Homo sapiens: one gene and its partners. The protein of the gene in region 2 interacts with the protein of the main gene of each other region in a pairwise test. Each region holds a gene or a part of one and is shown on either strand. Other genes may lie near its edges.

Evidence for each region.
Region 1: the proteins of KRT27 (region 2) and TSKS interact in binary tests that used the Homo sapiens proteins (3 or more experiments, as listed by UniProt).
Region 3: the proteins of KRT27 (region 2) and DUSP26 interact in binary tests that used the Homo sapiens proteins (3 or more experiments, as listed by UniProt).
Region 4: the proteins of KRT27 (region 2) and ZNF669 interact in binary tests that used the Homo sapiens proteins (3 or more experiments, as listed by UniProt).

What each region holds. Positions count from the first base shown.
Region 1 is NC_000019.10:49,746,293-49,753,314, forward strand, and holds part of TSKS (testis-specific serine kinase substrate), read right to left. Parts: intron 3,876-7,022; exon of another isoform or gene 3,770-3,875; intron 2,199-3,769; exon of another isoform or gene 2,178-2,198; coding exon 2,082-2,177; exon of another isoform or gene 1,877-2,081; coding exon 1,793-1,876; intron 1,181-1,792; coding exon 1,097-1,180; intron 507-1,096; coding exon 178-506; intron 1-177. UniProt on the Homo sapiens protein: May play a role in testicular physiology, most probably in the process of spermatogenesis or spermatid development.
Region 2 is NC_000017.11:40,779,551-40,787,372, forward strand, and holds the start of KRT27 (keratin, type I cytoskeletal 27), read right to left. Parts: upstream 3,001-7,822; 5' UTR 2,944-3,000; coding exon 2,500-2,943; intron 1,721-2,499; coding exon 1,638-1,720; intron 907-1,637; coding exon 750-906; intron 312-749; coding exon 150-311; intron 78-149; coding exon 1-77.
Region 3 is NC_000008.11:33,597,002-33,604,435, forward strand, and holds the start of DUSP26 (dual specificity protein phosphatase 26), read right to left. Parts: upstream 3,023-7,434; 5' UTR 2,664-3,022; intron 759-2,663; exon of another isoform or gene 591-758; 5' UTR 515-590; coding exon 294-514; intron 1-293. UniProt on the Homo sapiens protein: Inactivates MAPK1 and MAPK3 which leads to dephosphorylation of heat shock factor protein 4 and a reduction in its DNA-binding activity. Inhibits MAP kinase p38 by dephosphorylating it and inhibits p38-mediated apoptosis in anaplastic thyroid cancer cells.
Region 4 is NC_000001.11:247,101,350-247,108,172, forward strand, and holds the start of ZNF669 (zinc finger protein 669), read right to left. Parts: upstream 3,008-6,823; 5' UTR 2,851-3,007; coding exon 2,848-2,850; coding exon of another isoform or gene 2,590-2,847; intron 765-2,589; coding exon 638-764; intron 443-637; coding exon 382-442; intron 1-381. UniProt on the Homo sapiens protein: May be involved in transcriptional regulation.

The DNA of each region.
Region 1 (7,022 bases), on a different chromosome or scaffold from region 2:
GGCTCCTCCCATGTTCCCGCCCACCTCAGGTCCCCGAGGCTCCACCCATGTCACCGCCCACCTCAGCTACTTGAGAACCCCCGTCCCTTGGGTCCCGCCCACCGCATCTCCTCGAGGCTCCACCCCTGAGTCCCCGCCGATCTCGTTTTCGAGGCTCCGCCCCTAGGTCCCGCCCACCTCAGCTCTTCGATGCCGGTGAACAGCTTCTGCAATTCCTGCTCGCTCACGTAGGGGCCCTCGCCAGCCCGAGGCCCCATTCCCCAGCCTGCGGGGACCAGGCCGTGTGGCCGCGAGGGTTTGTCGGGACTCCCTGGCGGGCCGGGGCAGCCCTGGGACGTGGCGGCGGGGCCCAGGCTGTTCCAGGAGAGGCCAGCCTCCGGCTTCTGCTTCTCCTCCGGCTCCTGCTTCTCCTCCGGCTCCTGCTTCTCCTCCGGCTCCTGCAGCTCGGCCTCCTGCCGTCGCGGCGTCTCATCCTGCAGCTGCTGCTGGAGGTAGCGCAGCTTCTCCTGGGTGGTAAGGGAGGACGGGGTCACAGCGTCCAGCCGCTTTCCTCCCGCAACCACCTCCACCCCAAAATCCGCTCCAGTACTCCCCGAGATTGGAAGTAGAACGCCTGTGGGGACAGTATGTTGGAAGTCTCACTGGCTGTCATTAGGGAGGGGAGGCACCATTTGAGGCCCAGTTGGACTCCAATTCCCGCTAACCTCCCACAGCCTGCCTCCAGGTATCCACCCGGCCCTCCAAGCCCTCCAGGCGTCAAATACCAGTCCCGGCCACTTGGCAAGAACAACTGAAGCTTTCTCAGCATTTTGTTGGAAAATGAGTGGGCATGTGGACAGGACGGGCCTTCTCACCTGAAGTCCAGCTCGATTCTCTTTCTGGGACCTGAATGTGACTGCAGGGCAAGAGTCCCCCATCTGGGTGTTGGAGCCTCATTTGAATCCCTCTTATCAGCGAGTTCTAAGGATGACTATGTGCACGAAGGTGCAGTGTGGTGGTGGTGTCGGGGCAGGGAGTTCCACCTAAAAGTGTATCTTGAGTCCCTCGTGCATCTGACCTCCTCCCACAAATCCTGGGACTGCCCCCTAGCCCTTACCTCCAGCAGGGCAGAATTCTGCTTCAAGACGTTGGTTTTGATTTCAGCATCTTCCACAGACCGGGTCACCTTCCAGCAGTTCTCCTGGGTCAGACACCAGGGCGAGGGCCCTGCCTTCCCATTCCAGTTCTGCCTCCCAACCCTTAGCCTGTCTGTTTCCATCCAGGCTCCAGGCCTCCTAGCCCCCCAGTACAAGACACACTCACCAGCTCATTTCCTTGGCTAAGGGGATGGCTTCCTCCTTAGCCAGATGTGCCAGAGTGGCACCCCTCCACTTCCTCCCACCTCTCTTCGGTCCACCCATTCCATTTCTCCTCTTTCTTTTCTTTTTTTCTTTTGAGACTGAGTCTCGCTCTGTCGGCCAGGCTGGAGTGCAGTGGCGCAATCTTGGCTCACTGCAACTTCCACCTCGTGGATTCAAGCAATTCTTCTGCCTCAGCCTCCCAAGTAGCTGAGATTACAGGCGCCCGCCACCACACCTGGCTAATTTTTGTATTTTTAGTAGAGATGGGGTTTCACCATGTTGGCCAGGCTGGTCTCAAACTCCTGACCTCAGGTGATCTGCCTGCCTCGGCCTCCCAAAGTGCTGGGATTACAGATGTGAGCCACTGCACCCAGCCTCCTCCCCTCTTTCTCCCACCCTCTTCTTACTCCCATTCCCCTCTCCCCATCCATTCCTGCGTCCCACTGGCTCACCTTGAGTTGAATGCAGTACCCCTCCAACTCTTCTGCCTCTTGCCGCCTTCTCTCCAGATTCTCGCTCAGCACAGAACACTCGCTCTGGAGCATGGAAGGAGGAGAGGTTAGCCAAGGACACGAGGGGACAGCCTGTGGAAAAGAAGATCTGGGCCTGGGAAGGTTCCTTTTCTTTCTGAGCCTCAAGCTCCCCAACTGAGCTATGGGTGCATTCTGCTGGAGGCAGGCTCCAAGAAGGGAACTTGGCCCTGGAGGAAGGGCAGGTGTTGGATATAGGGGGTCCTCACACCTGCAGAGACTGCACGTGCTGGTTAACCCGGTTGGTCTTTTCCTTCAAGCTGGTGATGGAGTCTTTGGCGCGGACCAATCCACTGTTGACCCCACTCTGGGGAAGAATGGGAGACAGGTGAGTTAGTGGGTATGTGGGGGCAAGCCCCAAGCCCAGGAAGAATTCCAGAACTGGGAGGCTGTGTTTACACCTTGATTTTGCCCTGGAATGGCTATGTGACTTGGAGCCAAGGGCTATACCTCTGATTCTTAGCATTCCTGCGCGGCAAACCCAGGGCATAAACGACCTTTCTTCATGGTGGGCTGGGAGAAAAATAGGATCCAGGAGGGAAAGGGGGATGGAGGTGGGGTGCTCAGACATGTGGAGGAAGAAGGATGGACTCAACCAAACACTGAGCTAAATGTCCTTGGGGGCCAGGTGCCGTGGCTCACTCTGGTAATCCCAGCACTTTGGGAGGCCGAGGTGGGTGGATCACTTGAGGTCAGGAGTTCAAGACCAACTTGGCCAACATGGTGAAACCCCAACTCTACTAAAAATACAAAAATTAGCTAGGCGTGGTGGTGCCTTTAATCCCAGCTACTTGGGAGGCTGAGGCAGGAGAATTGCTTGAACCTGGGAAGCAGGGGCTGCAGTGAGCTGAGATTGCACCACCGTACTCCAATCTGGGCGACAGAGCGAGTCTCCGTCTAAAGAAAAAAAAAAGTCCTTGGGGTCCACAGCTTAAAAAGAGAAACTTTGAAAACACATGCCCTTTCTCTCCAGGAACTGGTGAATTACAAAGGAAGCCACTTTTCAGATATGAACACTTGCTATGCACCAAGCACTTGTCTTGTCTTTTATTCTTCACAACTCCGCCTCTTGAGGTTATTTGGCCTATTTTACAAGTGAGACAAATGGGTCTCAGAAATGGGATATCCCTTGTCTTCCCAAGCACTCAGCACATTAGGTGATCTCATCAGAATCTAGATTCAGAACGCTTGTTTTAAACCATGACACCATGTGGCCTCTGGTCATCATTACTTTATATCACATAAAGTGTTGTGCGACTCCTGCCAATCCGTGGTTCAGGAGGGATGCATGTGGTAGGATCCATTCTCCCAGCTTGGACAGTTACAGAAGCCTTAGCCTGGCACATGACTGCCCAACCAGAGACTACATTTCCCAGGTTTCCTTGCAGCTAGGTGTGGCCATGTGACTAAGTTCTGGCCAATGGAATGTGAGTGGAAATAATGTAGTCAATTTATTTTTGGGGGAGGTGTGTGTGTGTGGGGGGTCTCTCATTATTACCCTGGCTGGTGTGGAGCGGTACTATCATAGCTCACCAGCTCCTGGGCTGAAATGATCCTCTTGCCTCAGCCTCCCAAGTTGCTAAGAGTATAGGTGCTTGCTACCATGCCCAGCAAAATTTTAAGATGTTTGGTATAGATGGGTTCTCACTACGTTACCCAAGCTGGCCTCAAACTCCTGGGCTCAAGTGATCCTTTTGTGTCTGCCTGTAAGTGTTGGTCTTACAAGCATGAGCCACTGTGCCCAGCCTCCTTTTTTCTCTCTCTTTTATTTATTTTTTTTTTTAGCCTACATCATTACTTAGACTGTGCAGAATTATAGTCAATTTCTGAGTCATCCCTTATAGGAAAAGAGTGAGAACTTTCCCTTTTTCTCTCATTTCACTGGAATGCACAATTGAGGGCTGTCTTGGACCAGCAGATAGAGGACACAATGAAACAGAAGAAGCCTGAATCCTTGACATGGAGCCACCATACTCCATTCCAACCACCTGTGAAGACTTTCAGGGTGAGACATTACATCTTCTGTGTTATTCAAGCTGTGTTATTTTGTGTTTTTTTGTTACAGTAGTCAAATGTATAACTTCAATATCATTGACATTCTTTTTTTTTTTTTTTTTGACAGAGTCTTGCTCTTTTGTCAGGCTGGAGTGCAGTGGCATGATCTCGGCTCACTGCAACCTCTCACTCCCAGGTTCAAGCCATTCTCCTGCTTCAGCCTCCCGAATAGCTGGGACTACGGGCGTGCACCACCACACCAGGCTAATTTTTTGTATTTTAGTAGAGACAGGGTTTCACCATGTTGGCCAGGATGGTCTTGATCTCCTGACCTCGTGATTCACCCACCTCGGCCTCCCAAAGTGCTGGGATTACAGGCGTAAGCCACCGTGCCCGGCCTATCATTGACATTCTTATTTCACACCTGAAGGAAAAGAGACCCAGAGAGCCCTCTGCCAGCTGTTTATGACCAGTTCCAGCCGATGGAAGGGAAGTGGGCACTGGTCGATGTGTGGAAAAGACAGGCATGATCTCTTCCCCTGTTCCCCCTGCTTAATGGCTGGAAGGCAGTGGCGAGAGCAACTGTCTAGAAATGGCTGAGCAACCAGAACGTAGACACCTGTAACCTGCTGCATTTGAAGAGCAGAGCTACTAAGCTTATCAAGCATTTTATGTGCAAAAAAGCAGTTCTCTTGGTTTCTCTCATGGTTGCTGAACTAATACACAAAAGATAGACAGAATAAGTTTCCTCCCTTGTGAGATGGAGGCAGCAACACATTTCTTGCATGATTGCTCTGGGGAAGAAGTGGAATAAGAAATATTGTATCCAGTTAACAACAGCAAAATGGTGGATTAAATAATTCAGGCCGGGCACAGTGGCTCACACCTGTAATCCCAGCACTTTGGGAGGCCGAGGTGGGTGGATCACTTGAGGTCAGGAGTTCGAGACCAGCCTGACCAACGTGGTGGAGCCCCGTCTCTACTAAAAATACAAAAATTAGCCAGGCGTGGTGGCAGGCAGTTGTAATCCCAGCTACTTGGGAGGCTGACACAGGAGAATCGCTTGAATCCAGGAGGCGGAGGTTGCAGAGAGCCTAGATGGCGCCATTGCACTCCAGCCTGGGCGACAACGAGATTCCATCTCAAAAAAAAAAAAAAAAAAAAAAAGGAATTCAAAAATTCCACCCCTCCATAAAAACAATGAAAAAACTAACAAAAACCATAAGAAGCAGTTTGTTCACAATTCTGGAAATTAACCAAAGGCTTGCAGCAACTCAAAGAGCATTTATTCAAGAAAAGTGACTCTCGATAAAAAACGGCAAGACTTGAGGAATTTTAACTTATCCTAGTCCTATCTCCCACTCCCTAGCTCAGCAGGAACCCTGGAAAATAACAGCCCACATTTCCCACAGGGAGGAAGCAGAATGAAGCTAGAACTCATTCAAAGCCTCATAACCCAAAGAAGAGTCATTCTATGATTGTTAAGTGATGCCTGGGAAGACCCCACACAGAATATTTGTCTTTCCTTTTCAGAACTGGCAAAGCCGTGAAAGCATCTCTGATAGTTGAAGGAAAGATTTGGATGTTTGTCCTCTCCAAATCTCATGTTAAAATGTCATCCCTTGCCAGGCACAGTGGCTCACACCTGTAATCCCAGCACTTTGGGAGGCTGAGGCAGGAGGTTCACTTGAGCTCAGGAGTTTGAGAGCAGCCTGGACAACATGGTGAGACCCCAACTCTACAAAAAAAAAAAAAAAAAAAAAAAAAGTAGCCAGGTGTGGTGGTGTGCACCTGTAGTCCCAGCTCCTCAGGAGGCTGAGGTTGAAGAATCGCTTGAACCTGGGAGGTGGATGTTGCAGTGAGCCGAGATTGCGCCACTGCACTCCAGTCTGGATGACACTGAGATCCTGTCTCAAAAACAACAACAAAAAAATGTAACTCCCAGGCTGAGCGTGGTGGTTCACACCTGTAATCCCAGCACTCTGGGAGGCCAAGGTGGGCAGATCACCTGAGGTCAGGAATTCAAGACTAGCCTGGCCAACATGGCGAAAGCCCGACTCTACTGAAAATACAAAAATTCGCCAGGAATAGTGATGCATGCCTGTAGTCCCAGCTACTTGGGAGGCTGAGGCAGGAGAATCGCTTGAACCCGGGAGGTGGAGGTCGCAGTGAACCGAGATCATGCCACTGCTCTCCAGCCTGGGCAACAGAGCAAAACTCCATCTCAAAAAAAAAAAAAAAAAAAACTTGTGTGGCATCTCCTTGCTCCTGCTCTTGCCAGGTGATATGCTGGCTCCATCACCTTTTGCTATGAGGCCCTCACCAAAAGCTGAGCAGATGTTGGCACCATGTTTATCAGATAGCCTGTGAACCATAAGCCAGTTAAACCTCTTTTATTTATACCCAGCCTTGAGTATTCCTTTATAGCAATGCAAGAATGGACTAACATGGAGTGGGAGAGGGAACATTTGTAAAGAAAAAAAAATTTTACGCTTGTTTTAATGTTGCTACTGCCGAAGGCAATGGATAACAGTTGGGGTAAACAATAAAAAGCAAAAAATCTTAAAAGGAAAATCTGATGGACATATCTGTAGAAGCCTTGAAATGTTCCAACAAATTCCTGGGAATGTAGAAAGCCATTGGCCTGTGTAGGGTTGTGTACATGCTTGGGAAAGTTCTGAGAAGGCCCCAAGCTTTTCACCTCTGGCTGACCTTGAAACCTTGAAACGCTGCACAAGCAGGAAGGGAAGGCTAAGGTAGAGTTGTAAATTGTCTGAGTGTTAAAGGTGTGCCTCATCAGGCACACAGAGTGCCATTTGGCAAAGACTAGAAGATTTTGTTGTTGTTCCAGTTTAAGGAAATGTCTCTCCAATCATTAGCTAACCACTAAAATTAGAGAACAGAGACTTCAGTGGCCAAACATGACAAAGAACACAGATATTACAGAAATAGTTCAGAAAAGTCTGTTTTTTAAAAAGCAACTACAGGCCAGGTGCAGTAGCTCACACCTGTAATTCCAACAATTTGGGAGGATGAGGTGGGAGGACTGCTTGAGCCCAGAAGTTCAAGACCAGCCTGAGCAACATAGTAAAACCTAATCCCTTAAAAAATAGTAATAAAATAGGCCGGGCGTGTTGGCTCATGCCTGTAATCCCAG
Region 2 (7,822 bases):
TTCATCTCGATAAGCTCATTCCGGGCTGAGGTGGTGGCGCCAGCGTCGTCAGAGATCTGCTGCTGCAGCGAGGCGCTCTGGAACGGCAGGGGCCGCGTTAGGGCGCTGGGGCTGAGTCCGCGCCCGGGCGCACCCAAGCGTGGTTTTACCTTTTCGTTGAACCAGGCCTCCGCGTCCCTGCGGTTCTGCTCTGCGAGGGCTTCGTACTCAGCTCGCATATTGTTCAGCAGAACCGTGAGGTCTACCCCGGGGGCCGCGTTCATCTCCACGTTCACGTTGCCTCCAGCCGCGCACTGAAGAGCTTTCATTTCCTGAAAGATATTTGTTTAACGGAATTAGGATCTGAATATTTTATTTATTGCACTTTTTGAGTTAGGGTCTCGCTCTGATGCCTAGGCTGAAATGCAGTGGTGCAATTATGACTCACTGCAGCCTCGAAATCCTGGCCTCAAGCGATCCTCCATTCTGGGTCTCCTACAGTGTTGGGATTATAGGCATGAGCCACCGCTTCTGGCCTGAATATTTTTAAAGGAGTCAGATGGACAAGATCTATAGGGTTAGAAACTTTTTGGGAGGTTTGTTTCTTTTGAGAAGAATGAATAGAAGCGTCTCAAACAATCTAAGCCTTATGGAGAAACTGACAGGTTCCTTCTTGAATGTTAATTTAAGACATTATATTTATCATCTGAAATTAGTTTTAAAATTTGGTAGGGAGGCGATTGTGAGAGCCAGCCGGGTGGAGCTTCTACCTCCTCATGATTCTTCTTGAGGTAAGCGAGCTCCTCACTGAGAGTTTCCAGCTGGATCTCCAGGTCCGTTCTGCACAAGGTCAGCTCATCCAGGACTCTTCGCAAACCATTGATGTCCGCCTCCACGCTCTGGTGAAGCGCTAGCTCGTTTTCAAACCTTAGAAAAGTATTTGGAAGTTTCATCATTAGTCATTAGACATGGCACATCACTTTTTAGATCATCATACAACTCAGACTAAGCTTTGAGGTAAAACTACTAAGATAATACTTAAAACTTCAGGCCGGGCGCGGTGGCTCACGCCTGTAATCCCAGCACTTTGGGAGGCAGAGGCGGGCGGATCACGAGGTCAGGAGATCGAGATCACGGTGAAACCCCGTCTCTATTAAAAAATACAAAAAATTAGCCGGGCGCAGTGGTGGGCGCCTGTAGTCCCAGCTACTCGGGAGGCTGAGGCGGGAGAATGGCGTGAACCTAGGAGGCGGAGCTTGCAGTGAGCCGAGATTGCGCCACTGCACTCCAGCCTGGGCGACAGAGCGAGACTCCGTCTCCAAAAAATAAATAAATAAATAAATAAATTAATTAATTAAAAAAACACATTTCAGTTAGGTCATCTATCATGCAATAAATACATTTCATTGAAGCAAGAGAATGGGAATAGCCAAAATTCTTTCTCATATGACTTTGACACTCGTTTTTGTTAGTCCCGAAATTTCCCAAGTAAAATTTGTTGCTCAGCTAGTTACTCATTCTAACAGGCATTTTGTTTAAAACAAATACATGAATAAACAAGAACAAAGGCTTGAGACAACGTCAAATAACTTAGAAGAATAAAGGAGAAAAAATGCTTAGACAACTTTTTTTTCCCATTTATCTTCAGCTCTACTTACTTTAGTCTGAAGTCATCAGCTGTTAGTCTTGCATTATCATTTTGCAGGACAACATGGGCATTACTGGTAGTTGCAGAAATTATCTGACAAATGAAAAGTTAGTTAAGATTGAGGAAATATTTAAGATGCATTTCAAAGTTCCTTGAAATAAAATTACCCATGAAATTATAGTAATATTTCTGGCATCTGTCTCTAATAATCAGACCATTCTTTTGAAGATGGGTAATTTAAGTATGGTCTCTCTCTCTGTCTTTTATTTTGAGACCGAGTCTCGCTCTGTTGCCCAGGCTGGAGTGCAGTGGCACGATCTTGGCTCACTGCAACCTCCACCTCCCAGATTCAAGTGATTCTCCTGCCTCAGCCTCCCAAGTAGCTGGGATTACAGGCATGTGCCACCACGCTCGGCTAACTTTTGTAGTTTTAGTAGAAACAGGGTTTCACCATGTTGGCCAGGCTGGTCTTGAACCCCTAATCTCAAGTGATCCACCTGCCTTGGCCTCCCAAAGTGCTGGGATTACAGGCTGAACCACTGTGCCTGGCTGGGTATGGTCTCTTGTATTTCCCACCCCAAGCATTAAAAAAAGCTCTTTCTATGGGAAAGCCTATAAATATATAACTGGAGACACTGGACAGCTTTTGATATTTTAATATTACCAAAAGCATATACCTAATACTACATGATGGACGTGCCATGTTCAAATATTAGAATTTATTAGAAATTATTTTTAATATTGAAAATGAACTCCTAAAATTTAGAAGCTGAGGGCAAAGCCCTGTTATTGTGATAGCTTATACATTTGTGCATCTGTGAGTGGCTAAACACTCTCAGGAGTGCTAACACTCACGCCATGGCGTTTCTTACCTGGTTCTTAAGTTCGTCAATAATTGGGAAATATCTGCTGTAATCATGATCAAGGCCACGGCAAGAACCAGGTCCAAATTTCTCATACCACCCCTTGATCTTCTGCTCCAAGTCAGCGTTGGCCTCCTCTAGGGCTCGAACATTCTCCAGGTAGGAGGCCAAGCGGTCGTTGAGGTTCTGCATGGTCACCTTCTCATTGCCAGAGAGGAGGCCGTGCTCATTCCCTGTGAAGGCAGCACAGGAAGCACTTCCCCCGCCCAGACCTCCGCCATAGCCTCCTGCAGATGAGCTGCCCCCAAAAGCACAAGAGAAGCCACTTCCAATGCCTGGCACACCGCATGTGTTTCCAGCCCCAAAGCCTGCTCCCCCACTAGAGAGCCTCACAGAGCCAGTGCCCCCGCAAGAGCCAAGTCTCCTGGAGGTAGAAGAAAAGCGCACAGACATGGTGTCCGGAGGCTGGAGCCTTTGTTTCTGCGGTGATGCTCTGATGGTGAACGGCCTACTCAAACAGCTTGGTTTGCCTTTATATACACATTATTAGGGTGTTTCTTGATGAGCTTTGCTCATAGCCAAATGATGTTTGCCAGCTCATTGTGAATTATCCATAATGGGGTGATTTTTTTTTTTTTTTAATGAATGGCTTTACCATACTGTGTCCATTTCTGTAGGTGGATAGTTATTGTGGGGTTATTTGTTATCTCTGGAGTTGGACAGGGTGGAGTATTATCAGGATTATTATAGTGATGCATTTCAAATTTAGTATGAGTAACTCTTCCTGTCTTCCAGGCTTCAGGAATGCATAATACCTATAAGAATAAAAAAGTATGATAGACAGATTTCTCTTTCCCTTGCTCAAATCAGCATTGCATTTTCTTCAGCAATGAAGTATCATAGTATCAGAAGAAGGAGGGGAGGTCCTAAAGGAAAACTGAGGCATTAAAGGGAATCTTCTTTGGAGACAGAAAGTGTTCCTTTGATCCTTATCCTTCCTGAATTACCATTTCATCTGTACTGGTTTTCTGTCTAAGTTCCATTGCTAACCAGGTTAAGTAAAGGAATTGGTCACCTCCTCGGGCCTCAGTTTCCACATCTGTAAAGTGAAGGGTCTAGACTGTGGTCTCTATATTCACTTTCTGTCTGTAGATTGCTCATATTTCTGCATTCCTTCTATTGGCTGTCCATTTCCATAGCACTTTTCTGCATTGCTTCTTGTACTTTTCACCTCTTATTTCTGAATTGTGGTCCCACTATTTTACTGAAATTAACCTCTCAGACATCACTGCACATCTCTAATCATCATTTCTTTTATTTTTTCCCCTATACCCTCTTGGTTACATTCAATACTGACAACCTCAGTCTGATGAGTCTGATCGAGTTTCAGACAGTTGCTTTCTAAGAAATTTTCTACATCTCATGTTGCTCCCCTTTTCTCTTCCACTTATAGCTCCTGTGCCCTACCTTTGTCATTTCTTATAGTTTTGTGCTTGGTATTTACGACTCTCTCTCTTTTTTTTTTTTTTTTGACAGGGTCTCGTTTTGTCACCCAGGCCAGAGTGCAGTGACATGATCACAGCTCACTGCAGCCTCAACCTCCCAGGCTCAAGTGATCCTCCCACCTCAGCCTACCAAATATCTGGGACTACAGGCACACGCCACTATGCCTGGCTAATCTGTGTATTTTTTTGTAGAGTTGGGGTTTGCCATGTTGTCCAGGCTGGTCTTGAATGCCTGGGCTCGACAGATCCTCCCACCTTGGCCTCCCAAAGTGCTGGGATTATAGGCAGGAGCCACCTCACTGTCTTAATGTAAATTTTCCCGCACTGACTTGTCCGTTCTGTTTTACTACTTCCCTCTTTCCCATCTCTTTGCCTTTGTTCATGTTATTCTTTCCACCTGGTTTTCTTCTTCAGACTAAAAATTATAACAAATCATTTGAGATCTTGCATTTGCCAAGAATGATTGACATCACTTTCAATTACCTAGATTGAAAATGAAGTTGGCAAAAATATAAATTTTCATGACTTAATAAATGAGCTTGCGGAAAAAAAGCCAGAAAGATTTGTCAATCAATTTAATACATTATTAAAGTATTATGGTTTATTGTTTTACATAAAATTAGGACACCAAAACATTATTTCTTTGCTGTTTGTAGTTTATGCTGTTATATATGTGTACCCGTTACCTCATTACATGTTATAAATAATAAGACTTTTTAGAAGAAAAAGATTTATATTTTACTATTTCTTTTTTTTTTTTTTTGAGATGGAGTCTCGCTCTGTCGCCCAGGCTGGAGTGCAGTGGTGCCATCTCGGCTCACTGCAACCTCTGCCTCCCGAGTTCAAGTGATTCTCCTGCCTCAGCCTCCCAAGTAGGTGGGATTACAGGTGCCTGCCACCATGCCCGGCTAATTTTTGTATTTTTAGTAAAGACGGGGTTTCACCATGTTGGCCAGGCTGGTCTCAAACTCCTGACCTCAGACCACCCACCTTGGTCTCCCAAAGTGTTGGGATTATAGACTTGAGCCACCGCGCTGGACCTATTTTAATATTTCTAACTGAACTTTTTTTCTGACTTTTCAACAGGAGACCTCACATTTTCATTTTGCACTGGGCCTTGTAAATTATGTAGCCAGCCCGAATTGTTGGGTCTCTCTGAGGAAGCTGAAGAATCTCAGAGAAAATACCTCCAGATAGAATTGTTTGAGTGTTCTCCACAAAAAGGGAGCTCACTGTACAACCACTCTGGAAGGAAACACAGACACTTCACACAAAGCTTTCAAATGTTTAAGGTCTTACTCAAAACGAACATAATTTAAAATATCACGATACATTGAAAAACACTCCAACAAGAAAGACAGAGACTCAAACAAACAAAAAATAGCACTCAGGGGAAACAGAGATAATGAAGAACGTTGAAGAAAACTTTAAAAAAGAAACTACCTATAATTATTACTTTCAGAAGTAACAAAAATACTGTATATTTAAAACATGGATAGAACATCATTAAAATTGAACAGGAAGCACATAAAAGACCTCTTAGAATTAAAAACTAAGTCCCAAAAGAAAACTTCAATAGATGAATTGGAAAATAAATTTAAAAAAAAACTCCCCAAAATTAGAACAAAAAGATGAAAAGATAAATATGTGAGCCTTGAAAGAGCCAGTCTCTCTCTCTCTCTGTTTTTTTTTTTGAGACTGAGTCTTGCTCTGTCACCCAGGCTCGAGTGCACTGGCGCGATCTTGGCTCACTGCAACCTCCACCTCCCAGGTTCAGGTAATTCTCCTGCCTCAGCCTCCCAAGTAGCTGGGATTACAAGCACATGCCACCATGCCTGGCTAATTTTTGTATTTTTAGCAGAGATGGGGTTTCACCATGTTGGCCAGATTGGTCTCGAATGCCTGACCTCAAGAGATCCGCCAGCCTCGGCCTCCCAAAGTGCTGGGATTACAGGTGTGAGCCACCGTGCCTGGCGTAAAGAACCAGCCTCTTAAGATGAGTCCTGAGCAGCTAACTGGGCCTAAATTCAAATTAAAACCAAGCAACCATTTGCTGACTACAGGTCACATATTTACTCTGAGTTCCCAGAAAATGTGCACATCTGCTTAACTTTGGGACTTTCATAGCTTCCAGTTTATGCCACCTGAACCAAACAATAGGCTGTAACCTACATGGATCAATCAGAAGTCTGCATGCCCTGACTAATAAGAGCTAACTAAGCAAACATCAACCAACCAGAACTAAGTAAATTTCAATCCTGCATTTTGCATAAGCAGACCTAAGTGGGAACCTGGGTGGGAACTTTCTCTAAAAGACAAATTCCCTTCCTTTGTTCTCTGGAACACATTTTCATTTTACACCAAAGGCTGTGTCTCACCAGCTTGCTAGCTGTTTGCTGGAATGAAGTCTCTGTCCTTGAATTTCCTTCTCAGAGAACTTGTTTACAGATAAAAGAAAATATTAGAAAATGAGAGACTTGGGCCGGGCGCGGTGGCTCACTCCTGTAATCCCAGCACTTTGGGAGGCCGAGGTGGGCGGATCACGAGGTCAGGAGATCGAGACCATCCTGGCTAACACGGTGAAACCCTGTCTCTACTAAAAATACAAAAATATTAGCCGGCGGTGGTGGCGGGCGCCTGTAGTTCCAGCGGCTGAGGTAGGAGAATGGCGTGAACCCGGGAGGCGGAGCTTGCAGTGAGCCGAGATCGCGCCACTGCACCCCAGCCTGGGCGACAGAGTAACACTCCATCTCAGAAAAAAAAAAAAAAAAAAAAAAAAAAAAAAAAAGAAAAAGAAAATGAGAGACTTGGTCAAAGAAGAACAACATCAAGTAGGTCTTCTGGAAAGAGAGAAGGGAGAAATCATGAAGAAATTATTTTATAAACATATTTTCTGAAATACTACTCAGAACTAAACAACTGAGCTTCTAAATTCAAAGAGACCACCAAGAACCATGAATGATAAATGAAAAACATCCACAGTGAGGCACATCCACAGGATCTTTCAGAGAACCATGGCTGGGGGCGGGGGCGACAAACAAACACTTAAAATGTCAGGAGCAAAACCAACACATATTCAATTTTAGGAAAGCCATCATTCTAGTGAAGAATGCTTTCAAAATACGAACCCAGGCCAGGCGCAGTGGCTCACGCCTGTAATCCCAGCACTCTGGGAGGCCGAGGGAGGTGGATCACTTGAGATCAGGAGTTCAAGACCAGCCTGGCCAACATGGTGAAACCCCGTCTCTACTAAAAATACAAAAATTAGCTGGGCCATGGTGGTATGTGCCTGTAATCCCAGCTATTTGGGAGGCTGAGGCAAGAGAATTGCTCGAACCCATGAGGCGGAGGTTGCAGTGAGCTGTGATCACACCACTGTACTCCAGCCTGGTTGACAGAGCGAGATGCTGTCTCTTAAAAAAAAAAAAAAAGTGAACGCAAAATGATATCCAACCTTTTATTTCTAATCCTTTCCTAAGGTTTGTCACCTCATTTCTAAGTTTTTTTCTAATTGTGACTTATGTAGAGAACCAAAATTCTCTACTTTAACAACCACAAGTGAGGGTGGAATAAAAATCTTTTCCGACATGAAAGGTCTCAAAAAAATTATCTCTTTTGCACATTTTGTCAGGAAGCCACTAGAGAGAAAAACATGAAAAAGGAAAACTTAGGTTCCTGGAAATGGAGTTCCAATGTGAGCGCACTGAGTGAGTGTTCCCACATGACAGCTGGGTAGCAGGCTTAAAAAACAGCCAATGTTGCATAGGAGGACAGGAGATTCTGAAAGTGAGCACTTCAGGGGGATAGATGAAAATGATTTCTTGGTA
Region 3 (7,434 bases), on a different chromosome or scaffold from region 2:
TGTTGCTCAGGCTGGTCTAGAACTCCTGTACTCTAGATACTCCTGCCTCAGCCTTTCAAACTGCTGGGATCACAGGCAAGAGACACTGTGACTGGCCAGAGTTGGGCATTTCAATAATCCTGGCCAAACTCTCCCAAACCTGCAGCCTCTACTCTTGGCCCATGTGCCCTATCCCCTCAATCTTCAACCAGGAACCAATGACACCACTGCATACCTGTCTGCCACCCTTCTCCTTTCTTACACACACAAACACACACACGCTCTACCGTGGGCCCAGTCTGCCCGATACATACTGGTCTCCGAGATAGAGGCCTGGCCAGACCTCGTCGGCATGGTTACAGGCTGTCTTGCCTGTGTAGAGGAGCCGCTCCAACTCGAAGACATTGAGGAAAGGATGTTGAACGGTTGGCATCTCCTCCAGGGTCCCTCGAGTTCGAACAGGAGACCTTGAGCTACTCCGGGAGAAGCGGGCCATAAAAGTCATAGAAGCCCAAAGCCAGTTACCAGGGCACATCTTAGAGGTGGCAGAAACCGTGGCAGCTGCAGGAGTGGCTGTGGTGATGATGGGTTCAGTTGCCAGGTAGCTGCTGCTGGAAGAGGAAGGGGTGTGAGACACACTTGAGTGAGTCCAGAGCAGCTGCTTCCCTTCCCTGGGCTGGTCCTTCGGGAGAAGATTCTCGAGGGAGAGAAGGTAAGCCTGGCTCTGGCAGGAGCCTTCAGGGGTGGCTTTTTCTTCAAGCTGCAGCAGCTCCTTTTGCTCAGCTCTTTGGCTCTGCCACGAAACGAGGTGGGAGAGTCACATGTCCTTGTTTACGGGGAGAGGGAGCTGCCCAGCTGCTAGGTTTCAGCTTCATCACCCCACCCCCACTGCCAGCACGCATACACACACACACACACACACACACACACGGCACTTGGGTGGTTGTCCCCACTGCTGGGGATCTTGCCAGCTGGAATCTGAGTCTCATCTGCCTGGGGCTATCGGCAGAGAGCCTAGGGAGCTGGGATGGGGTTGGGGGTACCTTTAGACCCATCCAAAGAGAATTAGCAGGGAGACAACAGCAGCTGAGGCCATGACACATGTCAGGCCTGCCATCTCTGTGCCAGAGTTAGACTTTAACCCCTTCGTGACCTGCCACTGCCTCAGAGATAAACCTGCTATGGGAAGGGTGTGGTGGGGGTGGGATGGGGTGAGTGGAGAATAGCAATAAAGAGGAAGAGTAAGTTTGCAAAAAATAAATACTTGCTGAATGCATGAGCTTATGGAAGAAGGCACCAATCTATGTGCACAACAGGCAAACCACCCTCCTTGGATCAGCATTAGGAAATTACTGATCAGATCTCAGCTCTAATGTGAGAATTTCTGAATCTAAGCAGGGTTGGAGTGTTTTGTCTGTGTGTGTCTTGAGGGGAGGGTGACAGAGGTGGATGGTGGGGGAATTGACGCAGGGTTGGAGTGTTTTGTCTGTGTGTGTCTTGAGGGGAGGGGGGACAGGGGTGGGTGGTGGGGGCCTAGAAAGCAGGAAGGAAAGGGAAAAATGAGGGATCCTGCCAGGTCCAGGGGCTCAGAGGCTTAGAATTACCAACCGTATGGCTGTTGGAGTCAAGTGACCCTACAAAACACGAGGTCAATAACGAGGGGCTTAGCAGGTGTGTCTCAGATTACCTGTTGAGCTGCAGAGCTGGGAAGGACCAGCGTTTGAGGCTTGCCCTGGGACCTTCAGGCAGGGAGGCAACAATGGCAAGGCCCCTTCCCCCTCCCTCCCCATCCTCTCACACCTGTGGTCCTGCCTGTTTGAAAGCAGGAGGTCCTGGAGCCTGCAGAATCCCCTTCCACTCCCTTCCTGGCCTCCTGCCAGGGGGACTTCAACTCTATGACCAGCAGTGAGAGGCCATCTTTGTCCCTGCCCATGCTCTGTCCCCATCTCACACCCCTAGACAGGGCCCAGCTCTCCCTTGCTCCAGTGCCAAGAGAAACCAAGCACTTACAAGGCATTAGAAGCAGGGGTTTTAGGACCAGGATTGGTGAGGGAAGATTGGATGTTAGGGAGTTTAGGGAGAGAGAGTTTTCAATGGCTGGGTCCGGAAGGAGCACAGAAATATAGCACTACAGCCATCATCACCACCACCATCACCATCATCACTACCACCATCACCACCATCACTATCACCATCATCTTCTTCTACCTTTGCACCCAGGCCTAAAGACCCCATTACTGTATTGCAATACAACCTTTCCTCTTAGAGAGTCTGCTGTCTACGAGATGATGAATGGGATGGGGGAAGCGTGAAGGAGCCCAGGTCTAAGAAGGATCTCCGTGGGGCTGTTTTTCCCGGGGGATGCAGAAGCCCCTTTCTGTCCAGGGATACAGCCCTGGGCATTCTCCAATCCCATCCGTCGGCTCCAGGGGCCCTGGCCCGCCGCTCCCTCCCTCCGCCTGCGGTCGCCTTTGTAACAGGTCCATGGCTGTCGCCCCAGTCCTCGCCAGCCTGGCAGCCGGGCCCCGCGCGCGGAGGGAGGGCGCCCGGGAGAGAGAGGCTGGCTCGCTGGGCTCGGGTGCCCGCTTCCCGGTCCCCTCCCTCCCCCGTCGCCCCTAGCTGGGCGCCTCTCCCCAGCGTGGAGAGCCAGCTGAAAAGGCGAAGGCCCGCCGCAGCCCCTCTACCTCTTTGCAAGCGCTGCGCTGGGCCTCAGTCCGAAAGGCGGATCGCCGGCGCAGACAGCGCCACGGCCATGACGCTCCTGCTGCTGTCGCCGCCGCTGTTTCTGCCCAAGACAGGTTGACAGATTAGCAGCTATTTTTAAGCCATGACACACACGTCGAAGCAGGGTTCAAATCAGCGTGTGCGCTGGTGACATAAAGGGACTCGGTCTCACATTCGGTGGCCCGAGTCGCCAGGCAGCGTGGGCTCCCCAGCCAACCCCCCACGAGCCCGCGCGCCTTGCAGACCAGACACGGCCCCGCCGAGCCCCAGCAGCACCGCCTGGAATGCATGCGTGTGTTCTCAGAGCTGCACCAATTACAAAGCGTTTTGCCTAAAGATTACATTATAAGTCATCCCAGGCACTGTCTTAAACACACACACTCCTCCCAGACAGAATTAACTAATTACATAGACACGATTCTGTGCACTGGCTTGTACATGCCTCGGTCTCAAGAAACCGTGTCATAAAGAACAATGGTCCGAAGCCCCCATTAGCCTTCATTATATGCCATGTGCTTCATTTAGCTTAAGGCATTTTATACTCCCCACAAGTCTATGAGGGAGACATAATTACTATTGTCCTAATTTTAGGGAGGAGGCGACCTAGGCACAGAGAGGCTAGGTACTCTGCCCTGGTCACACAGCTCGTTACTGGCAGAGCTGAGCTTGTTCAAACAATGCAGCCTGGCTTTGCAGTTTATGTCCTTAACCACTCTCTAAACCAGTGCCTCCCACAAAATGGAGAAGGCACCATGGATTTCCTTCATTCAGGAAGCCATTTCCACCAGCTCAGCTCATAGTGAACTTCACTTTCCCCAGACTCTCAAAACATTCATCTTCATATTTCTTTCTTTCTTTTTTGAGATGCAGTCCCACTCTGTCGCCCAGGCTGGAGTGCAGTGGCGCAATCTTGGCTCATTGTAACCCGCCTCCCAGGTTCAAGCCATTCTCCTGCCTCAGCTTCCCAAGTAGCTGGGATTACAGGCGCCCGCCTCCATGCCTGGCTAATTTTTTGTATATATTTTTTCTTTGTTTGTTTGTTTTTTAGTACAGATGGGGTTTCACCATGTTGACCAGGCTGGTCTTGAACTCCTGACCTCAGGTGATCCACCCACCTTCTCTCAAAGTGCTCAGATTACAGGCATGAGCCACTGTGTCCGGCCATCTTCATATTAATTTCTCATGTGCTGCCTTCTAGTGACATATTCACTTGATCGGCATTTTTATTGTAAGCACCAAGATTGTAAGCACTTTGAAGGCAGGGACTGTGCTACCTTCCCCAGTGCCTACCTTATTGTGTGAGAGGGAAGTGGGGGAGATGATAAATGTTAGCAGATGATGCTGTTGAGAACTAGGCTGGCTTGAACTCTCGCTGTCTACTAGAAGAAAGGCAGAAAGTAGATTGGCTCAGATTGAAGCTGATGGTGTCAGCTATAGCTGAAACCAGGACTGACTCCATTCCCAGCAGTGGTGGCAGATCAGGTTTTGATCTCTGGGTTAGAGAAAGTACTGGCCAATGTGACCAATCCCCAGGTTCCATGACAGGCTGCCATCCAAGTTTAATGTACCGCCTAGCCTTTTTTTTTCTCTAGAGAAACAAAATTCTTTTCACTTTTCCTTGTCCCTTGTGTTACAGCAGTTTAAATATGAAATGAAATCCTTGTCATTTAAAACAAAGAGGCAGGGCATGGTGGCTCACACCTGTAATCCCAGCACTTTGGGAGGCCAGGGTGGGCAGATCACCTGAGGTCAGGAGTTCGAGACCAGCCTGGCCAACATGGTGAAACCCCATCTCTACTAAAAAACAAAAATTAGCCGGGTGTGGTGGCAGGCGCCTGTAGTCCCAGCTACTTGGGAAGCTGAGGTGGGAGAATCACTTGAACATGGAAGGTGGAGGTTGTAATGAGCTGAGATCATGCCACTGCACTCCAGCCTGAGCGACAGAGCGAGGCTCCCTCTCAACAAACAAACAAAAGCGAAAATAAACAATCAAACAAACAACAAAAAACCCCAAGGAATTGACCTGAGAAATTTGAGATTTTAATTTGCGCATCCAAATTAAAATTTGGATTTAATTTGCAAACCTAGTTAAAACATTATCATAAAAGGAATTGTGAAAGAGCACTTACAAGATCAATATCTTTTTTTTGTTTGTTTGTTTGAGACGGAGTTTTGCTCTTTTTGCCCAGGCTGGAGTGCAATGGTGCAATGTCAGCTCACCGCAACCTCCACCTCCCGGGTTCAAGCGATTCTCCTGCCTCAGCCTCTCAAGTAGCTGGGATTACAGGCATGTGCCACCATGCCTGGCTAATTTGGTATTTTTTAGTAGAGACAGGGTTTCTCCATGTTGGCCAAGCTGGTCTCGAACTCCCGACCTCAGGTGAAGATCAATGTCATTTTAAGTGAAAAGTCTTCAAGATTGGTAGGTTGAGAGGATGTTGTAGGTAAAGCTGATCTCAATCTTTGACAAGACCTCTGTTTCAACCCTGCATTACACTTTTTTCAAAAAGCGGGGAAAATACAGTTTAAAGTACACCACAGACAATGTGTACAGCTGTTTATGGGTAATTATAGAAATTACCTGGGGACTGACATATCCGTGAGGATCATTTTCATGAGTCGATCTATAGCCCACTTGATTTCTTTTGTTTTGTTTTGTTTTGTTTTTTTGTTTGTTTTTTTGATTTTTTTTTGAGGCAGGGTCTCAGGCTGGAGTGCAGTGGTAAAATCATAGCTCACTGCAGCCTCAACCTCCTGGGCTTAAACCATCCTCTTTTAAACGATCCTCTTGCCTCAGCCTCCTAAGTAGCTGGGACTATACAGGTGCATGCCACAATGCCTGGCGATTTTTTTTTCTTTTTTTTTTTTTTAAGACAGAGTCTTGCTCTGTCTCCTAGGCTGGAGTGCAGTGGTGTGATCTTGGCTCACTGCAACTGCTGCCTCCCCAGTTCAAGCAATTCTTGTGTGTCGCCTCCTGAGTAGCTGGGATGACAAGTGCATGCCACCACACCTGGCTAATTTTTGTATTTTTTGTAGAGATTAGGTTTCACCATGTTGGCCAGGCTGGTCTCAAGCTCCTGACCTCAGGTGGTCTGCCCGCCTCAGCCTCCCAAAGTGCTGGGATTATAGGCCAGAGCCACCATGCCCTGCCAATCAGCTCATTTTATCTCACCCATATATTAAATTGGTGTCATCATTCTGATTGAATACCTGAGAGAGACTGACATTTGGTCAGATTAGTTAACTCATCCACATCTAGTGTGTGGCAGGACACAGGTTCAAACCCAGGGCTATCTTATTTGAAACTTCAGTGTTTCAAGACTAGGCTGGAGAATCGTTTCCTCTGTAAAGCCTTTTTGGATTCACTCTTTTTTTTTTTCGAGACCAAGTCTTGCTCTGTTGCCCAGGCTGGAGTGCAGTGGCATGATCTCAGCTCACTGCAACCTCTGCCTCCTGGGTTCAAGCAATTCTCCTGCCTCATCCTCCTGAGTAGCTGGAATTATAGGCATGCACCACCATGCCCAGCTAACTTTTTGTATTTTTAGTAGAGACGGGGTTTCACCAAGTTGGCCAGGTTGGTCTCGGGCTCCTGACCTCATGATCTACTTGCCTCAGCCTCCCAAAGTGCTGGGATTATAGGTGTGAGCCACCGTGCCCGGCCTGGATCCACTCTTTTTTTTGTTTGTTTTTTGAGATGAAGTCTTGCTCTGTCACCCAGGCTGGAGTGCAGTGGCTCAGTCTCAGCTCACTGCAACCTCCACCTCTCGGATTCAAGCAGTTCTCCTGCATCAGCCTCCCAAGTAGCTGGGATATAAGAGTGTGCCACCGTGCCTGGCTAAATTTTGTATTTTTAGTAGAGACAGGATTTCGCCATCTTGGCCAAGCTGGTCTCAAACTCCTGACCTCAAGTGATCTGCCTGCCTCGGCCTCCCAAAGTGCTGGGATTACAGGCATGAGCCACTGTGCCCAGCCTGGATCCACTCTTATTTGTCCGTTTCCTTCTTTGTGCTCATATACACTTCCATCAAAGGACCTATGAGCTATATTTGTTTCACTTATTTATACACTTATTTAAATTCATATTGCCCGTACTAGAAGCACGAATGGATACACTATGCTGGGATGAAGAGATTAGAGATGGAAAAATAAGGCTATGGAAAGATAAAGATAGGGCCAGGAACTGCAGCTCGTATGCCTGTAATCCCAACACTTTGGCGGACCGAGGTGGGAGGATTTCATGAAGCCAGGAGTTGGAGACCAGCCTAGGGAACATAGTGAGACCATGACTCTACAAAAAATAAAGAATTAGCTGGCCATGGTGGCAAGCACCTGTAGTCCTAGCTACTCAGGAGGGTGAGGTGGGAAGATCGCTGGAGCCCAGGAGTTTGAGGCTGCCGTGAGTCATGATTGTGCCACTGCACTCCAGCCTGGGTGACTCAAAAAAAAAAAAAAGACAAAAATAGATTTCAAAATAGTTCTGAAAGAAATGATTAAATAAATATACAGACAGGGAGGTGTTCAAAAATAGAATGTGGGAAAAAAGAAAAAACAAGAATGACCATCAAAATATGGCATATGTTAAAGGTCAATTCTAACTGCTACCATTTAATTATGGGCTGGGCTTTACATACATTAGCGAATTCAATCCCATAAATAGATTTAATTAATTCAATTTTACTGTTGAGGAAACAGGTTTAGAGTGCTGGTGGTAAATCCGCTCTGAGGCCAGAG
Region 4 (6,823 bases), on a different chromosome or scaffold from region 2:
GGTTGGTTTATTAATAACTTTCTACTTATTAATAGGTCTTGGACTTACACTGCTACCAATATCAGGGAAAATGCATTTTTTTTTTTGCCATGACTGAATTATTTCAAAGTAAATGGGTTACTACTGAAAACACAGCTACCACCTGCATGGCTATGACCAAAATAGTAATATTCATATACACAGTTTTGTAGTACTATTTTCAAGTAAACTCTTTTGCAAACACTGACTGCTACATTGAAGTACGTTACATTTTGGGTGAAATTTTTCTAAAAATAAATAAATTTCAAGTGACTCTTATTTGTTTTGATTGCTTGTTTTTAAGTTCATGACATGCTAAGATTCCTTCAGAGGACTTTATTTCCTCTGCTCAGTGCAAATTACCTTATATCTTTCCCAGGTTTTTCGAAGTGATCTTCAATATTCTGGTCTTTCCATTGGCTTCCTAAAATGCAGACCCATAAAATTATCATGAATTATTACAAACTGTAGACACATTACTAGATTTAATGTTCACTGTACACAGTGCCCATGCCTGATTTATTCACCAAATCATTCCCTTGCCACATTCCAAATCATAAATAGCACTGATGATAGGGAAAGACTTCTGTAATTAACTGAAATGTGTTGTCATTCTTACCTACAGAAGCCAGGTTCCTGCAGGTTTCCTGCATCACTTCTCTGTAGAGATTCTTCTGAGAAGAATCTAGCAAAGCCCATTCCTCCTGGGTAAAGTTCACAGCCACATCCTCAAAAGCCACCGAGTCCTAGAACATTCCACACATGTGGATAGAAGGATGGGTGAGACTGACAGCACTGGGAATCTATACTCAATTCATAAGCTGTTTACATGATTTGATAATTTCCAAGCATTTATTCTATGACTTGATTGTCACAACTCTTACTCTGTTCACACATACTCCCTCCCACACAGCAGTACTAATGCTAGAATTGAACTATTCAAAAAGGCAACAGCAAAGTGGAAATACCCATCTCATTAGAGAATCCAGGGAGTAAGATGTGCTGCTAGGTTACCTCTTAATTTCACTTCGTACATTTCTAGTATCTGCCATAATAAAGTCCTACCTGATGTGCATAAGTGAGTTAATAATATCAGTCCTAAGACTACTTATTCTTAAAAATGCCTGCTCACAAAGTTCAATCTTTGTTTGTATTAGTAACTTACATTTTGAAAGGGATTCCACCAACCTAAGTAATAAGAATGACTCACTGCATCTAAATGGTTTATGCAATATAGTTGCCAAAACTTTTTCTGCTAAAGGTCTATTATTTTGTGTCACTGCAGTGGTGCTTAGGGAACCAGACACCAAAACACAGTCTGAACACTAAGTGTTTAATGAGTTTCCCTGGTAGACAATATTTTATATGTGCTGTCACTTGTTAATTGGGGAGTTGAGCCCATTCCATGTGATTACACCAAGAGAGAATAGGCTTATTAAATTTAATTGAGTAGTAAATAAAACCAATAATTGATATTTAACAATTTACTAATACAATTTTTAAATTTCTATTGCACAATGTCAAGGCAGAATGGAATAAGAGGAAATATGGCACATGTTTTTTAAAATGACATTAATGTCACCACTTCCAGATGCTATTCCTGTGAAATCACATAAATTCCCAAATCAGGCTTTTTTAGGCAAGAAAAACTAGTTTTTCATACCTAGTAAAAATGACAAATGTCTAATGATTTTCAGTCATCTAAAAAAAGAGTTATGTCTTGCCTAACATACTTTTAAGATTTTCAACCAAAAATATTCAGGACAGCACAGTATTAGCAGAGAGATGAGCAAGCAGACCAAGGGCTGAGGACACAACACCCTGTAAAGTTTTCACAGGGGGACATCAACCTAAAGACATTTTGGTAATATGCACACTTAGGAAAGATGAAGAGAGGCACAAAGATTTTTTTACAGTAGAGTGTCAGATGGTTTATTCTCCGCTTTCCTCTCATGTAAAATGTTTGTAAACAGAAAAATATTTTGGCCGAGCGCGGTGGCTCACGCCTGTAATCTCAGCGCTTTAGGAGGCCGAGACGGGCGGATCACTTAAGGTCAGGAGTTCGAGACCAACCTAGCCAACATGGCGAAACCCTGTCTCTACCAAAAATACAAAAATTAGCTGGGCGTGGTGGCGGGCGCCTGTAATCCCAACTACTCGGGAGGCTGAGGCAGGAGAATCGCTTGAACCCGGGAGTCAGAGGTTGCAATGAGTGAGACTGCATCATTGCACTCCAGCCTGGCGACAGGGCGAGATTCCGTCTCCAAAAAAAAAAAAAAAAAAAAAAAAAAAGAATATGGTTTGCTTCCTCATTAACCTTATCAAAGCCTCTCATTTACGCCCCTTCTGTGGACCCCAAACCACAAACCATGACTGCGGTACCTGGTTTATGAATCGCCGTTTGCTCAAACACACGGTTTAACGTTTTAACAAAGCCTCGGCTTAATTTTAGGGGAAGAAAGGTGGGACTGGAAGCCCCATGAACCACAGCTCCTCCCATGCTGGAACCCCGCACACCGAGACACCGAGTCGGGGCTCTCCCGCATCACCCTCCCGTGGTCACCACACTACCTGGATAGGGGAGGCGAGGGGTTCCCGACAGGGCTCCGGCCGGCGGAAGTGGCGCCCGCAGGTACAGACAGGATGCAGGGGTTCCGCTGCCCGCCCCGCCCGGCCCGGCCCTGAACAGAAGAGGACTGAGCCCCGGCTACGCCACGGCGACTCGGTCCGCAGGTTCCGGAGCCGATGGCGTGGAGGCCCGAGTCGCGCCACAGCAGGTTTCAACCAGCCCTCTTCTCCACTTCGGGAAGCCAGGCGCAGTCCACTCACCATTCCTCGGCTTCCCGGGTGTCCTGGCGTCAGCTAGGGATGTCCCAATACTCGCAGGTCACAGGGTGGCAGAGGCTGCTGCAGAGCCACCTGGGCCTCCCAGAGCCAAGAACTAGCAGCGGAGACTAACAGGAAGAGCCGGCTCCGGCGAAGGAGAGACAAAGCAACCGCCAGGCAGATCCCGGAAGCCGCCCTCTCCTTTCCGGCGGCGCGCCTGATTGAACGGTCCCCACCCCAGCGCCCCTGATTGGATGGGGCTTCAGGCCCCGCCCCTCAGGCCCTGAGTGACAGGAGATTGCGATCTCACGTGAGGCTGGATGAGGTCAGAATGACCGCTTTTGGCCTAGCGGTTTGTAGGCGGTGCGTCCTTCCTGCGCTGGGATCCGACCATGCAAGAAGGACATTCACATTTAACCTGTATACAAGTTATAGCTATTTGTGCCTTTTATATATATATATATATATAAAATTGGAAGCAATATAATGACAGTTCTGTAACTGCCCAGGGAGTTCACCTTGCCCGCTACCTAGACAGAGCCGATTTCTCAAGACAGGGGAATAGCAATAGAGAAAGAGTAATTCACGCAGTGTCCTCTGTGCGGGAGACCGGAGTTTTTTTATTTTATTTTATTTTTTTGAAACAGAATCTTGCTCTGTCTCCCAGGCTGGAGTGCAGGCTTGGAGTTTTATGATTATTCAAATCAGTCTCCCTGAGCATTTGGGGTAAGAGTATTTAGAACGTTTATTTTGCCAAGGTTGGGGATGCATATGCATGACACAGCCTCAGGATGTCCTTGATGACATGTGCCCAAGGTGGTCAGAGCACAGCTTGGTTTTGTTGGAGAGAAATGCTCGGTGCCGCAAAGTGAAACCAGCACTCAAGCGAAAGTTTTCTCAGCAACGCAATTTACTTCTGCAGAAGCGTGCTGCTCGCATCAATCACGATCGCAAGAGCACACTGAACAGAGGAAAGCAGGGGTTTTTATTCCTAACGCAGTCCCTACCTCTGGCATGGGCTGGGGTCAGACCGCACGATCTAAACTGACCCGGTTGGCTATTTGTGAATATTTTCCCAAATAAGGAAGGGGGAAGGGGGATGTGAGTTACAATGGTGGGACTTGCGGTTTCCAAGGGAGAAATGGGTGCAGAGCAGGTAACCAAGGGAACAGATGTGAGTTATTGATTAGAACTGACGGAAGGTTGTTTACAGTAACTAAGGGCAAGGAGGCATGGAGAACAAGAAAGTTGAGTTCGAAAACAAAAAAACAAGAAAGTTAACATGCCAAACCTTGGAAGAGAAACTGACTGTATCTGACAGCTTTATACATTTTAGGGAAACAGGAGACATCAATCAACATATGTAAGATGAACACTGGTTTGATCCGGGACAACCTGAAGCAAAAGCGGGTCAACTCGAAGCCAGGAGGGGGCTTCCAGGTCACAGGTAGGTGAGAGACAAACGGTTGCATTCTTTTGAGTTTCTGATTAGCCTTTCCAAAGGAGGCAATAAGATATGCATTCATCTCAGTGAGCAGGGGATGACTCTGAATAGAATGGGAGGCAGGTTTGCCCTAAGCAGTTCCCAGATTGACTTTCCCCTTTAGCTTAGTGATCTGGGGGGCTCAAAACATTTTCCTTTCCAATTTCCCCCTTTTCTTTTAAAAATATTTTGGAGAAAGCATTTTAGAAGAAAATCAGTCTCTGGTCCCAGGTTTTGTCCAATCTCTCATGGAGTAGCTGGGATTACAGGCACTGGACACCACGCCTGCCTAATTTTTTTTTTTTTTTTTTCGTAGAAATGGGGTCTCCCTCAGTTGCCCAGGCTGGTCTCTGGTGCCCAACGCCGGGCTCCCGGTAATCTCTACAAATAATCCAGTGAAGGAATGCCAGAGAGTGGAAAGTGGAGGATGACTGACAAAGGACGCCCGAGTACGTTTTCACTTCAAGCTCTACAGGTAAGTAGGGCGCTCGGAAAATTCCAGGGTAACCTCCGGAAACTATGGGTCAGGCTGAGAGTAAGTTTGCTAATTACTGAAGCCTTGTCCGGCAGTTACTGCGCCGCGGAGGGGTAATTGTGAGTACCCAAAATCTCCCATCTTTGTTCTATCTGGTAAAAAAGTATTCTCTTTGGTTCCCGGAATATGGAACCATGAATGTAAAAGACTGGGACAAGGTCGGATCAGACTTAAAACGAGCACAACAAGAGGGCCACGATATTCCCTTCTTGCTTGGTCTGCGTGGCCTGCAATTAAAACAGCACTGGAGCCCTTCCACACTGAGGAGGAGCTTCAGGATGACATAGAAAACTTTAATAATCAGGAGTCTAATGATCAGCAAAATCAACCATCACAGTCTAGTTTTAAAAAGGCCGAGAAACGGGAAGGTATATATGCTAATCTCCAAAAACTTATAAAAGAAACAGTGCCACCTACTTCGCCTTTAGGGGAAGGTCTGGAATGGCCACCCCCGGCTCAGCCTTACAAATTTTTGGAACTGGAGCCTGAGACGCGGCTTGCCGCTCCCATTGTTGCAGGCCCCACCAATAACTATGGCGAAGGGAAGCTTCAGGCTCGCCTAACAGCCAATTACGATCAGGGAATGATCCTCTACCACCTGTTAATTGTGGTAGAGGAATGCTGCGAGCCGGTCCAAATACAAATTATGGCACGGGGACAATCCCGTCATCCATTCGCCAGGCATGAGAAATGGGGGATTTGGATGCTTTGCAGTTTCTGGTAATTAATTCGCCAGTTGAGGAGCCCAGAGAACATGCTCAAGCATGCTGGCAGCCACTTCCTTTTAAAATATTAAAATACTTAAAGCAAGCAATTGGACAATATGGGCCAAATTCTCCTTATGTTCATTCCTTGTTACAATCTGTGGCTTATAACAGGCGTTTAATACCTATGGATTGGGAGGCACTAGCCCAATCCACTCCGTCCCCCTCTGAATTTCTCCAATTTAAAACCTGGTGGACAGATGAAGCAACAAATCGGGCATGCAGAAATGCTCAAGTCCAACGTCCCGTTAATATCACATCTGATCAATTGCTTGGAATCACATGGGGTACTCTAAATCAACAGAATGGTAATGGGTGATGAGGTTGTTGATCAGGTCAGAACTATATGCCTAAGAGCCTGGGAAAAAATTCACAACCCTGGTACAACTTATCCGTGTTTTAACTCAGTTCGACAGGGTCCAAGGGAGCCTTATCCAGATTTTATTGCCCGTTTGTAAGATGCGGCTCAAAAGGCTATTTCAGATTTTCATGCCAGGAAAGTGATCGTTCAGCTGCTTGCTGATGAAAATGCTAATACAGAATGTCAGGCAGCAATTAGACCTATTAAAGGAAAGGCAGATCTAAATGAGGAAAAAGCTTTAAGTGAATACATTAAAGCCTGTGATGGCATTGGGGAGCACTTATATAAGGCCAGCTTCCTTGCTCAGGCAATGGCTGGACTAAGGGTAACAAAAAACACATGAGTGTTCCCCAGGTCTTGCTATAATTGTGGACAGATAGGACATACAAAAAGAGAGTGTACAAAGAGGCAAAAAAGGCAAAACTCAGGACCGGGCCCCAATTCAAAACGGGGCATTCCCAATTCAGGACGGGACATCCCTGACTCCAAATGGAGTGTTCCCAAATGGATTGAGGCAGGTTTCAACCAGCCCTCTTCCCCACTTTGGGAAGCCAGCCGCAGTCCAGGAAGGTCCCAAAAGGAGTTTATGGCCCACTGCCAAATGGCACGGTGGGACTTATACTGGGAAGGTCCAACTTAAAGGGAATTCAAGTACATACAGGAGTAGTGGACTCTGATTGCTACGGAGAAATTCAAATTGTTATCTCCTCCACTGTTCCCTGGAGTGCTAATCCACGTGACAGAATAGCTCAACTGTTGCTTTTGCCGTATGTTAAGTTAGGAGAAAGCTCAGAAAAAAGAATAGGAGGATTTGGAAGCACAAATTCAGCAGGCAA